Linked DNA regions of Homo sapiens: region 2 is linked to region 1. The links come from fine-mapping of genetic effects on gene expression. Tissue or cell type: whole blood. Region 1 holds a variant in brackets; the other region holds the start of a gene. All regions are shown on one strand. Distances are from middle to middle.

Region 1 (8,187 bases):
TGCTACTCTCAACTTTAAAAATTCTTCAATATTTACAAGATAAAATCAGAAGTAACATTCATCTGATTGACATTTAAAATTTATAGAGACGACCTGGCTCTATAAATGAAAAGTGTCTCCTTCCCTCCCTCTGTAAACGAAAGTGTCTCCTTCTTCCCTCCCTGCTCAGTGTACACATTCCAAGGCCACAATTCAAAGTCTGTATGTGGTCAAGGCTTAGTATAATCTGGCTTCCAATTACCATTTGATTCACTCTTCCTTTAAATCACATGAACCTTATGTTTCACTATGTTAGTCTACTTTTCTATCAAACACGTATATTCTTCTAGCATACCTCTTTTAGTATTATTGTGTAGTGATGATAGGGTGGAATGCCAAAAATATTTTTATATTTAAAATGTACAATGTCTATTATCTAAATATTGATATATTCACATCCATTATATATATGACTAAATATATATGACTAAAATATGTATATATGACTAAAATATATAGTGTATGTATAGTATACATACACTATATATTAGTATATATATAGTATACATACACTATATATTAGTATATATATAGTATATATAGTATATATAGTATATATATAGTATATAGTATATATAGTATATATATAGTATATAGTATAGTATATAATATATAGTATATATAGTATATAGTATAGTATATAATATATAGTATATATAGTATAGTATATATAGTATATATTAGTGTATATATACTATATATAGTGCATATATATATTATATAGTATATATTAGTGTATATATACTATATATAGTGCATATATATACTATATAGTATATATATGTATATATAGTATATATATATTTATGTGTATATATATTTATATATACACATAAATATACACACACACACAAAAATAGGTGTATATATATATATATATATATATATATATATATATATGACTAAAATGAATGCAATCTTATGTGCTCAGCTAATGAATACCAGAAGGCTGCACTGGGCTCTGTCTGAATGATGCCAGGCAATTTTTCTAACAACTCTGCTGAGGTTTCCTTTATTGCCACTATAATGTTTTCTGGTGAGTAATTTTCACCCATAGCAGCTTAAAAACAAGTCAGTGAAAGTGCTGGACTAGGTGGATCCCAAAGAAATATATTATTTTATAGGTTTTATAGTAGCCATGAGAGTTTCTAAGGAAATGTTAAAGAAAACAATAAGATACTGACAGTTATAGTTTACTAAAATGCCCTTTGATGTTATGGAGGAGAATATAAACATGACTGTTTCCTGAGAGAACTGAAAAACAATTTTAAGAGGGTACCTGGAAGAGAGTACAGTTGAAGACCTGTCATGACTTCACAGGATGTGAAATGCACAGAAAAAACTACCAACGTGCAATGGTGAGACCCATCTGTTCAGGACTGCACTACACCTATTCCGTACCATGCTCACTCATTTCCCATTTCCAGAACTGCAATCCTGCATACAAAGCTGAATATGCAAGTAATAGAGATATGTCAAACATGAGAAACCATCCTTTTACTTAAACCAAAACACAGGAGCCTATTAGTATATGAATCCACTTCCTGCTGAAACCTACAGCTGGTCCAGTTCAGCCCTCGTTGCTCTAGTCCTTAGATGTGTTCACATATGAAAAAAATGTGGAAAATGGATCTCTTGGCTTCCTTCTCCTAGGTTATGCTAACTGCAGCCCTAAGCTGGACCTTTTAGCTATTTTTCACTTATCAATTGCTGAGAAGAATGCCATAGTTCTTTTCCTGAAATCTGTACCTATCATTAATAGAAAAGCTTCAAAATATTCAGAGCATAATCTATCATTATTTCAATTTTTAAAGCACTTGCTATCAACGCCAATCCAAAGATCAATGGCTGTCCATCAAATACTTTTTGCCATGTGTTATATGTGAAAGACTGGGACGGTGGCATTGATAACTTTTATCAAAGAAAGGTAAATATATTTTGTATGCTTCTAAAAACTCAAACACTGATTACAAATGGAATTCCTTCTTGCAATTGTCATACAAGAGAGTTAACAGAAACAGAAAAACTGACTATCTCTCTTTAGGGTGACTTCAAAGTCCACAGAAAGACCTTAGAAGGTAAAGAATTTACCTTATTTTCTTCTAGAAATTTCAATTTGACAGAAACATCATTGCGCATTTTATCATATTTTTCCTTATGTGCTTGGAAGAGATGCTGTGACTGCTCAATCTTTGGCAGAGTGTTTGCGTCACGTGGTCCAAGATTCAGTTCTTCCAAATCAGTGCGATATGCATCATATTCAATCCTGGAAAGAAGAGAGTAAGTGAAGCATACTACAAGAACAGTAAAGTATGTTCAAAAAATGGGTTGGAAATACGTAATATTCAGTCTCATACTATACAATAAAATATATAAAATTCTCACACATATTCTACTTGACGCTTTTGAAATCATTATTTCTTTAAAAACAAAGAGCTATTTAAATAAGAACAAAGCTGCTGGTTAATCTCATTAACTATTTCTCTCAAAGCACAGTATTAACTGACAAGTAAAATTTCCAAAATCTAAAAACCAGTTAAAAAAAATAAATGTCAAAACAAGATCAAGGGTAGAATAAATACCCCAAGTGAATTGCTTAGTACTGATTAGGCAAAGCAGGTAAGGACAGCAGACTCTAGAATGGCATACTAAAACTAACGGAAGTGTAAATGGTTCTGAAAAAAGTCTGGGTTAGCAATGCACAACAAAAATGTAATGTGAGTAACACATGTAATTTAAAATTTTCTAGTAGTTACAATGAAATAATAATTAATTTCACCTGTTATCAATATATTTCATTTTACCCAATATATCTAAAATATTAATCATTGTGGCATGTAATCAATGTAACAGAATTATTCATAGGTACTTTACATTTGGAGAGTGGGTAGTGAGTCTTTGAAATCCACTGTGTATTTTACACTTCTATCCCATCTCAATTCAGACTAGCCACATTTCAAGTGCTCACCAGACATGTGTGGCTACTATACTTGACAACACAACTCTAGATGAATTTCTGTAACATCAGTATTCAGAATGTAACAACAGTATCTATTGTAGAGCACTTACCATCCTGTGTTCTGTAAGATGCCTCACTCTGATATTCTCCCCCCATCAACTCAAATAGTTACCCCACCACTGTCATCACTCCAAGATCCCATAACTCCTCATAATAGCTCTATCACAGTGCCTGTCTAAGTATAGTACTATCTTGCTTATTAAACAGTGATTTATCCAGCAGCTTCAACTATTCGGTACTCAGCAAAGAAGAAGCAAAGTGACCTCTAATTTAGTCAAGATCAGAATCACAAAGCTTATACCCTAAAACTAAAGCTCTTTATTTGGAGATATTAGGTGTATAATTCACATCTCCTATTCTGGGAATTAACAATACTTTAAATAACATAATCTATATTGTATATATGACTTGAGAAAGAATACATCAGTCCTTCACACTGATCCTAATTTATTCTTAACTCATACTGAATTTAGCAGTATGAGTTAAGATTTAATTTAATTGGCCTCTTTCAGGGTCAAAAGAGAACCATTCATTCATTCACTGATACACTGATTCATTCAACAATTCTCAAGTGAGCACTTTCCACGTTCCAGGCACTGTGTTAGAAAGTAGAGCTATAAAGATGAACAGATATGTTTATCCTCAAGAAGCTCGCATTCTAGAGGAAGAGAACCTTGTAAACAATTACAACAAAATGAGATAATAAGAACTACCATAAATGAGGGTAAGGTATAATGGAAATCAAGAGGAATAATTATTTAATTAGATATCTGAAAAGGTATCTCAGACAGAATTAAAATACTATAATTAAAATTTGAAGGATGGTAAAAGCTGGCTAGGTGAATTGGGATACAGAAATCAGTAGGATACTCTGATTCTGAAGAGAATAGCATGGACAAAGGCATAGATTTGTAAGATACAATGACACATTTGGGAATTCGGTATGTCAGAATCTGAAGCTGGAACATGACAATGGAAGGAATTAACATTAGACAGGCAGGCAGGATTGAAAGTAAGCAGCCCTACAGGCCATGTTAAAGTGTTTAAATTTAATCCAGTAGGAGAAGTAATGGGAAGCCACTGAAGAATGTTGATCTGACATAAAAATGACATGATTGTATCAGGATAGAAAGATGACCCTGGTGGTAGTGTAAGAGATGGAGGATAGAATAAATGATTAAAAAATCAGGAGCAAGGAAACCTATTAGAAAACGATGGACATATAAGAAATGAGTCACTGAATCAGGACAAAGGCATTGGAGCTAAGGAGACAAATACAAAAGATTTAGGAGGCAAGACTGACTTGGCAATAATAACTAGTTAGTTAAATCCATGGGTTCAGGAGCCAAGCTGAATGACCTCTCTGCCTTTTGGCTCTATTCTTGAGCTGGTTATTTCATCTCTTTGTGCTCCAGTTTTTCAATCTATAAATGTGAACAAAAATCTCCACAAAAACTTCATATAGATAAAACACACAGGATACCTGGTAATAACTGATACCTTTAGAATGCTTATTATTATGGCCAAATTAGAAGAGGGGTATCTAGAAGCAAGCACACTAAAAACAATAGGAAATAAAAGAGAAAAAAGTAGAACTAAATAAATAGTAATACATGGTGATTTAATCTAAGGACAAATATCCTTCAATAGCCTTGGAGCGCATTTCTAAACAACAGTGATTAACTCAAACATATTCAAAGTTATAATACTGACCT[T/C]ATATTTCTTAATTTTACATTCAGAGTTTGTAGGTGGTACCAAAGTAAAACTTTCCATAATAGCTTCTCTAACAGTGCTCATTACCACCAAGAAGAGAAGCTCACTAAGTTTTCAAAAAGCAACTTCACTTCAAGGTTGCCCGTCTGAACTGAGTCCGTATCAACAAAGTTAGTGACGGTTACTTTATGGCTTATGTAAAACTTCTAGAGAACAGGTGTCCACATCTGAAAAGTCTCGACCACAATTGACTCCCTTGTTGGTGCTGCTGTGGAGAAGTGTTGAATGGGCTGTTACAAGATTTTCTATACATGAAGCACCAGAGGGCTAGGAAATACTTGTACACAATGCATAATAGGGAGGATTAAAAGGCCACTCGGGCATTTGCCTAAATTACCACTTTTTGCACTGATCAAATAGATGACCCTTGCCCTAAAAGTCAGTAAATTCTGGCTTTGACAGAGAAGGAAATTCAGCTACTGAAAAACTTTTAACCTTGGATTCTTTTTGACTATTATCCATCAGTAGGCAAGGTTTTAGTGTTAACAACTAGCCAATTCCACAGCTATTTCATAAACAACAGAAAAGTCAAACCCCAAGCTAAGCTTAATGAATAAGATCATACATTGTAATTTGAATAAAAAAGGATAAATTACGGGATGACATAAAACAAAAACAACATTACTGTTGTTGTTTTTTAAAGTACACACAGAGGCTGTGTAAGGGTTTCCCTTAAGAAACCAGCCACCAAGTACATGTAACTTGATTTATAATTTTGTTCAAAAGTTCCAAATGAACCTATATACTGTATTTTATAATCTGAGATCTTATACCACATTATACTTAGGGCACTAATACTCAGGTATAAGGCCTACTGATAAAATGTGAACCATAGAGAACCAATGGGTTCTTATTTTGCCTTTGAAATTGACTACAAGTGAGCAAACCATTTAACCTCTAGAGTGTTTTCTCCTCTACAAATTAATTATAAACTGTTTAGAAATAAAAGCTGAAGGGAAAGAGATTATTATTAACGAAAATATATTTCAGGATAGGTAGACAATTGCAAAGTAGAGAAACTAGATTCACAAAGTTCTCAACTAGGAGGTGGTGGGGGTATTTTTGGAAGAAAACAATATCCATCTTTAAAACCCATACATGTTAAAACAATCAGAAGGACTAGAAAATATGAATATTTAAAATGATTAGAGATAAAAGAAACAGTACCATTATGAACAAATTAGGACATTATGAACAAGGAACAGAAAAATTTAGAAAAGGATCAAGTAAAACTTATATAAATGAATTTTAAAATTCATATACATAATGAACCCTTTGAAAAATATAATTTCCATGAAAGGATTTACACTGAGACTGAAACACCAATTACTGAGAATGTTATTGAAGAGATTTCCACGGAAGGCTATCTTACTAACAGCTATCCTCACCCTTACCCCTCCATACAACCACAGCTGTTTGACCTTCATTTTCAAGTCAATAAGAATCTCATACTTTAATACTAAATGGAAAATGACAAAATAAACATGGTATGGGACAGAAGCATCTCTTCCTGTGAAAACATCAAAAATTAACTTTTCAAAATGATTTGGGCTTTTACTTAATTGAAGTGTAAGGAAATATATATTTAATAAGCACTCAATTGCAAAAATACTAGATGAGTTTGGAGTTTTTTACAGGTATTTCTCATACCATTAAACTAGGATAAGAGGCCAAAGAGTAAAGTTATCCTTCTAAAAGGTAAAGTTTATCTTCAACTATGCATAAAAAGTATAATGGAAAATAAGAATTTTGAGTGCTCAAAAGAAAAAAACCTCAAAAGGGACTAGAATGATACTTAAATAAAAGGGGTAGGGCATATGGGGAAAAAATTGGGCCTGGAATCAAAAGGTGAAAAAGGCTATTATAGGTCTGCCATATTTTAGACCCTTCAAAATATTTATTAATATATTTATTAATATATATTTTGTTCACCATTTAACAGGATAGTTATGAGACAGGGAAACTGTATATATACATATATATATGAATATGGATATACAAAAACCCATTAAAATAGGATGTATAAAAACACTGCATTATGAACAGTTATCAAAATACAAGTCAAATATTTAATTTATATAAAAGGTAAAATTTGAAAGGGTTTGAAGGCTTGTTATAATCTGGATAAATGGAAGATGACTGATATCCTAACAAACAAAAATCATGGAGGCAAAATGAGCTTATTTATTCAATAGAAACTGAAAGTATGGGTCTGGCTATTGTGGAAGCAGTGGTAATAAGGATGAAAGGTAAATTTAGGCGAGAGTATAGAGGACCATGTAATACCTACCTGGTAGAACATAGGGCCCTGTCCTCTTCTAAAGAAGCCAGAGCTGGGAGATCCTCCATTTCCCTACTCACTAGAAGGCAGGGTTTGGGCACATGACCAAGGCTCAATTAGATAATCTCAAGGCAATGAAGCAAGTATTCATGGGTATTTAGGAAATTATTTATGGTAGCTGTGGCAGCATCAAGTACTAGAGGCACCCAGCATAGGGGTTCTAATTAGATTCTTCTGAGGCTTAACTTGGCTTTGGTTCTTGGTTGTTTCCAGAATCTTGTTCTCTCCCTTTCTGCCAGGTCTGTAGAGGCATCCTATAACTTTCCAGTACATTTTTTTCCTGCCCATATTGGCCAGAGTTGGTTTCTGTTGTTTGTAACCAAAAAATTAACTGAATTATATGCCATCTGTAAAACAGACAACACAGTGAAAATGTATACCTTACCTGGCACTTTCATACTGTTTCACAGTCATTAATGTATCTTCAATGGTTTTATTCACCAAAGTGTTCACACTAGCAATGAAAAAATTAATGGCCCCAAGAAGAGTCTCTCCATTTTTAGCCAGCAGTTTCTGGGTATCGGCATTATAGCCAAATTCTTCCTAAAACAAAGAAGTCACCTTAATTTATTCAGTAATAAATCAGTAAAAGTGACTTAAAAATCTCAAGCACGTCACTAATGGGAAAATATGTGATTTAGATAGAGATCTAGCTGTAGCAGTTTTACTTTTCCTTTCCGTCTTTAAGAATCGAAATCACAGCTAGCCATATAATTACTGAAAAAGTCTAATAAACCAAAATTGTCATCAGCTCAGATACATACCTAAAAGCTAAATAATTTTTTTAAGTTACTTTGTAGTAGAAACAATATTTTCATTTCTACATTTTGTTTCTATTATACTATAAGCACAGCTGTTGGAAAGAAAAATAGAGCAGATTATTAATCAGAGAAACTATAACTTTCACAGCCAAATTAGGTAATAATTGGTTAAAACTTTCAGACATAAAACAAAGTGCATTTTTTTTGTGTTTTGACTGATTCTCCTCAAAGTATAAATATTAACAATACATATT
Region 2 (8,187 bases), 110 kb after region 1:
TACCAACTGCCTCCACCAAATTCACTTTTTTGTCAAACTTCTCAGTATGATATTCAACCAGATGTTCATCCACTGAAGATTAAGAAAGGAAACAACCTTTTCTCAACACCTGATAGAAAGTCAGGTGATATATCTCCAACTCATTTCAAAAAGGACATAATGGACGCATGGTAGAAGTTGTCTACAGTAGTAGTCTAGAGTCAGACAACGTAGGTGGAGCCATGCACTGGCTCCACCAGCGCAATTCTGAGCAGACTACTTTAGCTTCAGTTAATCATTCAGCTTTATTTTCTTCACCTACAGAAATGAGGACTTTAGCCACTTTATAAGGTTATCATTTGAGATAATAATGTAAAGCACTTAGCTTAATGCACATGGTAAGCAAATAAATGTAACTGTTACAGTGTTAGATATAAAATATCTTCCGAATTTGTCATTACCTTAAAAGGAAACTAATTTAGCATAAGCTAGTCTGTTGTTGATGTTGTTTTTGAGATGGAGTCTCACTCTGTTGGCCAGGCTGGAGTGAAGTGGTGGGATCTTGGCTTACTGCAGCCTCCGCCTCCTGGGTTCAAGCGATTCTCCTGCCTCAGCCCCTCCCAAGTAGCTGGGACTACAGGCATGCAACACACACCCGGCTAATTTTTTTATTTTTAGGAGAGATGGGGTTTCACCATGTTGGCCAGGTTTTGAACTCCTGACATCAAGTGATCCACCCGCCACAGCCTCCCAAAGTGTTGGGATTACAGGTGTGAGGCACCGTGCCCAGCCTAGCATACGCTATTCTCTATAAACTTATGTTGACTGCTCCCCCAAGTGAGGTTGCTAGACAGAGGAAAACTTATTCTGTGAGCAGAAGAAACTGGATACTCATGATAGACTATGATGAGCTGTATAGGTCTCTTCAAGTTAACATTCTAAAAAAAAAAGTATCAGACCTTTAGAACTGCAACCCTCAATCAACAAATAATTCACAACCAAATCAGTAAGTTCAAATATGTACTCTAAAACTTACATTAAGCTTGGAAGGATACTAACGTATTCACAAGAGAGAAACAATCATTAAAATATCTCATACAGAATGGAGGGAAAGGGGATGTCAAGATAAGCAACAACATTCCAAAGGACCACACCACTGAAACATCTTGTTTGTTTTTCATAGCAAAGCCAAATCAAATCCTAAGGTACATGCCTCAAGCAAAAAAAATTAAGAAAATGAAAGCAAAATACAACTAGAATTTAAATTTTTTACTCTGAACTGTGCCTAGTTGGTTGGTGATATTTAATACATATTAAAGATAGGCACATCAGTTTGTAAATCCACTGGATCTCCAGAGCATGGACCACAAACAGCTATCCCTAAGAAGAAACCTCAAAACCACAAATCAGGAAATAAAGTGGGCAGCCTCATTTCCTTCTGTAAGTCTAGGAAGGAATTTAGAAACACTAATGTTTTAAAGGAGAGATTTCAATATCAAACTAGAAGAATCCCTGCATTCTCCTTTCCTTGGTCCCAAAGCAAACAATTTACAGTTTGGGAAAACACACACACACACACACACACACACACACACACACCCCTACCTGTTTTCACTAACTTCAACAAGACACTGCCTAAGTGGTGGTTTTAATCTATCAAGAAGCTATATATCTCCTTTGCACAGTTTGGGAAAGCACACACACATACACACCTGTTTTCACTAACTTCAACAAGATACTGCCTAAGTGGAAAACACACACACACATACACACACAAAACCTGTTTTCACTAACTTCAACAAGACACTGCCTAAGTGGTGGTTTTAATCTATCAAGAGGCTGTATATCTCCTTTGAGAATTTGATAAAAACAATGGACACTTTCCCCAGGGGGGAAAAAAATTCACTCAAACAAAACTGCATATAATTTCAGGGGTGGGAATGAGGAAGACCCCTGAAAGTTGTTGACCCTTAGGCCATGAACCCCAAGTCATCATCCAGGATTAAGGCAAATCATAATCCAAGGAAAACCAGTTTATCAATTTGGAAAGAAACTAAAGTAACTGAGGCAGGGATTTAATCCACAAAATACATTAGAAATCTTTTCTCTTTTCTCAGATAAAAGTGTGTTAGACTTGGTAGTTGGGAGAAGACGTGGGTCATGCTAAGCAAGGAAAACAAAACAAAAAACACCACAGGACAAACGAAAGAAAAGCAGAATTAAGGCAGCAGTAAAATATAGTAATCTGTAGCCGCTCTGAGAGAACAGCAATGAAATGGCCAATTCGGCCGGGCGCGGTGGCTCACGCCTGTAATCCCAACACTTTGGGAGGCCGAGGAGGGAGGATCATTTGAGGTCAGGAGTTTGAGACCAGCCTGGCCAACACGGTGAAACCCCGTCTCTACTAAAAATACAAAAATTAGCTAGGCGGTAGTGGCGCCTACCTGTAAACCCAGCTACTCAGAAGGCTGAGACAGGAGAAAAGCTTGAGCCTGGGAGGTGGACGTTGCGGTGAGCCGAGATCGTGCCAATGCACTCCAGCCTGGGCGACAGAGTGAGACTCTGTCTCAAAAAAAAAAAAAAAAAAAGAAAAAAGAAAAGGCCAATTCCTGAAGCCTTAACAGACGGCTGACTTAAGGTAACCATTTCTGGTGCACATTTCTATGCCAATTAAGTTAATTAAATGGCAAACATGAACACACCCTTACAGGTGAAAGTATGAAAGCAAAAGTTTATGCGAAGTTCTGGATCTCTTCCGGCTTTTCCTTATCAAATAATAATGTAGTTAGATGAATTTTATACTTTAGGAGAAAACAGGGTAGGGGCGGGGGACAGAAATCCTAAGAGTGGCCAAAGGATCTGCAGGAAGTATAAAGTGTAAACTTTTTGAAATCAAAGGGCTCAAGAGGAAGGTAAGAACAAAACAAAGGAAGTAATAACAAAATAAAGTAAAAGGGAAAAACGTCTAGCATCTAAAAACTGTTTTTAAAAAATTATTTCCTTTTCCTAGACACGTAAACAGTAGTAACTTGGCAAACAGGAACGGAGCAGAAGACAATCGAACAACTCCCTTTCCAAAACTCCAGCATTCCTTAGTCAGGCTTGGGACATTTCACAGGCAAGACTCCTCTCTGCACCACTGCCAGATGAATCTCTCAGAGGGACTGTCACTATCTCCCTTCCTCCCACTGCGGGAGAGAGGAAGCTGGGGATGCAGGGAGAAGAGGGGAGAAATGAGGGTTGGACAGCAAGCCTGAAGGTGGCCCACTCCGACACTTTGTCAAGAAAGGTCCGGATTCTGGATCCTGCAACTCCTTTTCCCACCCAATGTATGCAAAGCCAAGAGAGTGCCTCCCTGCAAGGGCCGGTCCTACACCTTCACTCGACTGTTTCGGGGGCACACTCAGAGGGACAGAAGGAATGAAGGACAGAAGAAACCAAAGGCATAACACTTGGGCAGATACGGCACAGACTAAGGAGAGGCGTGCCCTGTGAAAGTTCGGAACGGTGAACCCGTAGGCAACGTGCCCGCCCCACCAGCCACCTCAAACCATCTTTCCCCCGCCTTTTCCCAGGCGAGCCAGCTCCGCCCTCACCTTTCTTAGGGTAACTCGGTAGCTTCTAAGTCGAGGCTTATCCTTTCCGCCGCTCTCTGGAATCGCCTCAACCCTGGCAAAAACTGAGCGGAAACGCGACCCGGACCTTTTCCTTCTTCCCCTTCCCCCACGCACCTCGGCTGCTCGGGGGCGGGGAGCAACTGCAGCTGTCACAAATTCACACTGACCAACCGCCGAGGACAGTCGGACCGGCGACCTCTCAACCCAGCCTCCAGAACCAGAACCAAGAGCAGCGAAGCCGGAAGTGAGGAGACCGGAAGTAGCGTTGTCCCTGGCCCTGGACGGCCTCTCTCTCCCTCAATCCGGCCTTGCCCGGCCACGTCTCGGTGGTGTCAGCGCACCTCCCACGAGGATCCCTCCGCCCTTCTCCGGGAGGCGGGCTACGCCCCTCCCTCTGCTGCCCTAGCAACCACATCCGGGACTCCGGCGGTGTCGTTGCCCGGGTAATTTTCTGGCAGCGACCTAATGCGCGCGGGGCCAGAGGCACCGGCTAGAGCTGGGAGCTTGCGGAAGGGCGCCCCTGCCTGGTCTTGAGAGGTCGAAGGTCTCCAGGAGGCCTCCGCCTCCCTCTTTTTCATTCACACACCCTAGCCTCACACGTTAGGAGGACCCCCCCAACAGACCGTGAGCTGGTGCCGGGAGGGTGGAGGTAGATGTACCTCACCTCCACGCTACCACAGAAGAGCGAAAGCTGCTTTCTCAGCCACCGGAGAGCACGAAGAAGGTTATTCCAGTCCCGGGGGGAAGGTGGGGGTGGTAGGGAGAATGCGAAGATAAGGCAGCAGACGGAATGCGGGCGCTGCCTCGCGCTGCCCCCGTGCCTGGGGAGCCCTCTCCCTTCAGAAAGGCTAGACCCCCGGGCCCGGCATCCCTGAGCTCTTACTTGCTCTGGATTTGTGATCGCTTTTTGCTTTTTGCTCGCTCTCTCACAGTAGATTCCTTGATACTTTTCTTTCCGGCTCCTCTTTCTTTTTCCGGATGACCGAGCTCTGCTTTCTTTGCTTGCCCCATTACTTCTTAAATAGATCATTGTTCTGTCACGGAAACTGCTGAACAATTCGCTCTCTCAGAGCCCTTCGTAGTTTCCTAAACGGGGCCCCAACCTGCACTACTCTCCCCATCCCCAGAGCTCAGTGGTGCGAAAGCGTGGCTCCCCCGTGGCGCTAGATAGACCTGAAGTTCATTTACACACTGTACCATACAGTTGGTCCATCACAGAATATCCCTTCGAACTGCTGGACTGCTTTTCCTTTGACAGCTTTGAATGCTCATTTTTACTCCCATTTCACTTGTAGAAATGCGAAGGGTAACTGTGCACACGGCGAGATTTACCCTTCTTTAGACCGTACTTCTCAGCTGCCTTTACTTGTCACAGTAGCTGACAAGATATTTTTAATGACTAATGCCCAAAGGCAGAGCTCTACCTCTACAGATTTCCAGGGAGTTTCAGTGTAGTGAAATATCCCTGGCAGGTATCTTCCCCAGATCTGTGAATAGTAAACACCTATGGCACCATAAATGTTTCCAATGTATAACAATATTGATTGAGCTCTCTAGGATACCACCTCTTAAAAAAATAGTACTGAAATTCCAAAACATAAATCTCTTATCTTAAGTGGTTCTGTCTTAAACAAAAGAAAGGAGCAAATATATATGCCAACCCACTCAAACTGTAACTTCAATTGTTATAGCTTACTGTGGATTTTTCTGTACAAAGCCATCTTGTTGGTTTGGAGACCATTAGTCTTCTCAATTATAAGAAAATAATCCCAATCTAAATTAATTACTGCTGTAATTGTGTAGGAACTGAGCAACTACAGAACTTGCAGCTAAGTACAAGTGTTGTTCCTAGGGTTTCAGAAGGGTGACTTGGAGGAAGTGTACGGTAGGACTCAGCGGTGCTTGAATGATGTGGACAATGAATACTAAATTGTTTTTGCTGGCTGTTATCTTAAAGATTCCTGCTAGCTGTCTCTTGAGTTTGGAGATGCTTAGCTTGACTAAAGTTAGTCTAACTATTAGACTGTCAGACTCTGAAGTGTTTCTTATTTTGGAAAGGTGAAGACTTGCTTTAGTTTGTTCATAGTTTCCTTGGCAGCTGCTGATGGTTTTGATGGAGATTCAGATGGATTTGGAACTAATGCTAACTTCTGCTTGGTGAAGATGCTAACCAAGTTAGATACTCTTCAGTGAATTCTGGTACTGTGTACGATTAATCCTCATCCACAGTATTACGCTGTGCAAGGCTATATATACACAGGATTAATCTTTCCATGATTTCCACTGCCCTGAAGGAAATTAGAATGTAGTCTGGCTCCAAGAAAACACTAGAAACTACTTCAGCTGGTGATGGAAAATAGTGGAATTCTATACATCCTTTGAGACAATGGAAGCAGCAAACCAGCGTTCTTTGGATTGGGGAATATTTTTGGTACTAACTGAAAAACATCATTTTAAGCCTGGCCCTGCTTAGAGGAGACTTGTTTTCTCTTCCCTCTCTCCCTCTCTTCCTTTTTTCCCTCCTTCCTCTTTTTCTTTCCTCCTTTCCTTCTTGTCTCCCTCCCTTCTCCTTCCTTCCTTCTTCCTCTTTTTCTTTCCTCCTTCCCTCCCTCCCTCCCTTCCTTCCTTTTTTCCTTTCTCCCCTCCTTCCTTCCTTTTTTTCTTCCTTCCTTCCTCCCTCCCTCCCTTCTTTTCTTCCTTTCTTCCTTTGCCCTAAAACTTGGGGGACCCTGCCTGCTCATTTTGTTTAGAATAGAAGATTACTACTTTTCTCTGAATTGTCATTTATTTTTAGAGAGGTAAGAAAAAAGGGAATAGCTGCCTTCCATATATACTTATGACATGGAGATTATCTACTCATTTAACTTTGCACTGCTATTGGCTGTTTATTTGGCTTTTGAAAAATCAGGTGCTATTTATTCATTGGGCTTGTGGGGAACTCTAGTAGCCCTGAATGGCATTTGTGGCATACTCAATGAAGTCTAATTCTTTATCCTGGCATTAAAGGCTTACCAAGATCTGGCCTCAATCTTGCAAATGAGCACTCTCTTATATACCTGAAGGAAAAGTGCTAATTTAGCCAACTAATAGAGATAGGTATAAATACCAATATAGACATAGATATGAAACTTTAGTTGCAAAGAAATGTTTAATATGCTTCAAAGTGCATATTTCCCTCTTCCATGCTTTATTGTCTATTCTTATCAGCAGAAATGTTTTCCTATTTTTCCTTACCTGTGATGTACCTATCCATCCTTTACAGTTGAGTTCAGATGCTACTTCTGTCATGAACCCATTATTTATCCTCCCTGTGAGAATTCATTTTTCCCTGTTTTTGGATCTTACAGCCTTTGATTTGAGCCCCCATTTCAGTCTGCTTTATACTACTGTCTTGCATGTTTTCCCATGATAAATAAGATGGTTTTTGGGAAACTGAACTTTGGACTTACTTGATTCTCTTATAACACCAGGAAATTGGCCAATTCTAGTTGAGTTATGGAAATATGTTGTCTGCTGCATACCAGGCAAGTTCAAGAATACCAGCAACTCCTGCTACTTAGGGTAATGGTACAAGTAGGATTAAGTGGATATAGTTGCTATCTATCTGTAGAAGACAATGAGTGAGTGCTGTCTTAAGTTTGGAAAGTAGTTGATTCTCTGCAGAGGGGTATAAACTACTGATGAAAGGAGAGTGACTCATTACTCCTAGAGATTCTGAATGGGAAGAATGCCAGCTTTATGTTTTCTGATACTGATTTTTTTTTTAATAACTTGGTGCAAAAGTAGAACATTATTCTAAGATGACTGTTGTGGAAGAAAAAAAAGGTAGAACATTAGAGTTGTAAAAATGTTTTTAACTATAAAGAGGAAAAAACTGAACTTATTTATAATTCATTTACCTAGAGAGAACATTCAACATTTTGGTCAATGTATTTTTTTTCTTTATATCTATGTAGATATATATTTCTTCATTTATTTAACAAATTGCTACTGACACCCTATGGTTTGCTGGAAGTGAGCTGTGTAGGAATAACCATGAGCCTCTGCTCTGATGTAATTTTTAGTGTATGTTGTATTTGTTGACATATAATTTTATATTTTGCTTTTTTCACTTAATGTATCATGGAATTTTTTCATATCATTAAATATTCTCTTTGTGTGGCACAATAGTATTTCAGCATGTAGATATTTTGTAATTTATTGAATGAATCCTTTTTGTTGCATATTTTCAATTTTGTCTGTAATTATATAGCAATGCAGGGAATAGTCCCGTGTAGCAGGTGGAATTCTAAGATGAACTCCAGTGACACTTACCTTGTATAATTCCCTCTCCCTGTGAACATGATGGGATATTACTTCCATGATTATGTTATGTTACTTGCAAGGGAATTTTGGAGATATAATTAAGGTTGCTAATCAATTGACTCTGAATTAATCAAAAGGGCAATATTCTAGGTAGACCTAACCTAATCAAGTGAGCACTTTAAGAACAGAGAGTTTTCTCCTGCTTGTGGCAGTAGAGGAAGTCAGAGAGATTCAAAGTGTGAAAGAGACTCTACAGGAGGAATGTTCTCCATTGCTGAAATGACAA

Evidence for each region. PIP is the estimated chance that this variant, and not a neighbour inherited with it, causes the effect.
Region 2: it holds the start of ARFIP1, and the variant in region 1 is fine-mapped to the expression of ARFIP1 in whole blood (INTERVAL, PIP above 0.99).

What each region holds. Positions count from the first base shown.
Region 1 is chr4:152,882,251-152,890,437 of GRCh38, reverse strand. It overlaps ARFIP1 (ARF interacting protein 1), which reads right to left. Exons shown (of 9, transcript NM_001025595.3): 7 at 7,558-7,715; 8 at 2,131-2,305. Among named protein-coding and RNA genes, the nearest start is that of FHDC1, 50 kb to the left of the region's middle. The variant T/C (reference allele first, on the strand shown) is at 4,774.
Region 2 is chr4:152,775,615-152,783,801 of GRCh38, reverse strand. It overlaps ARFIP1 (ARF interacting protein 1), which reads right to left and starts at 3,848. Exons shown (of 9, transcript NM_001025595.3): 1 at 3,576-3,848. It overlaps TIGD4 (tigger transposable element derived 4), which reads left to right and starts at 4,072. Exons shown (of 2, transcript NM_145720.4): 1 at 4,072-4,320. RefSeq lists enhancers at 3,571-3,620, 3,811-3,970, 4,421-4,630.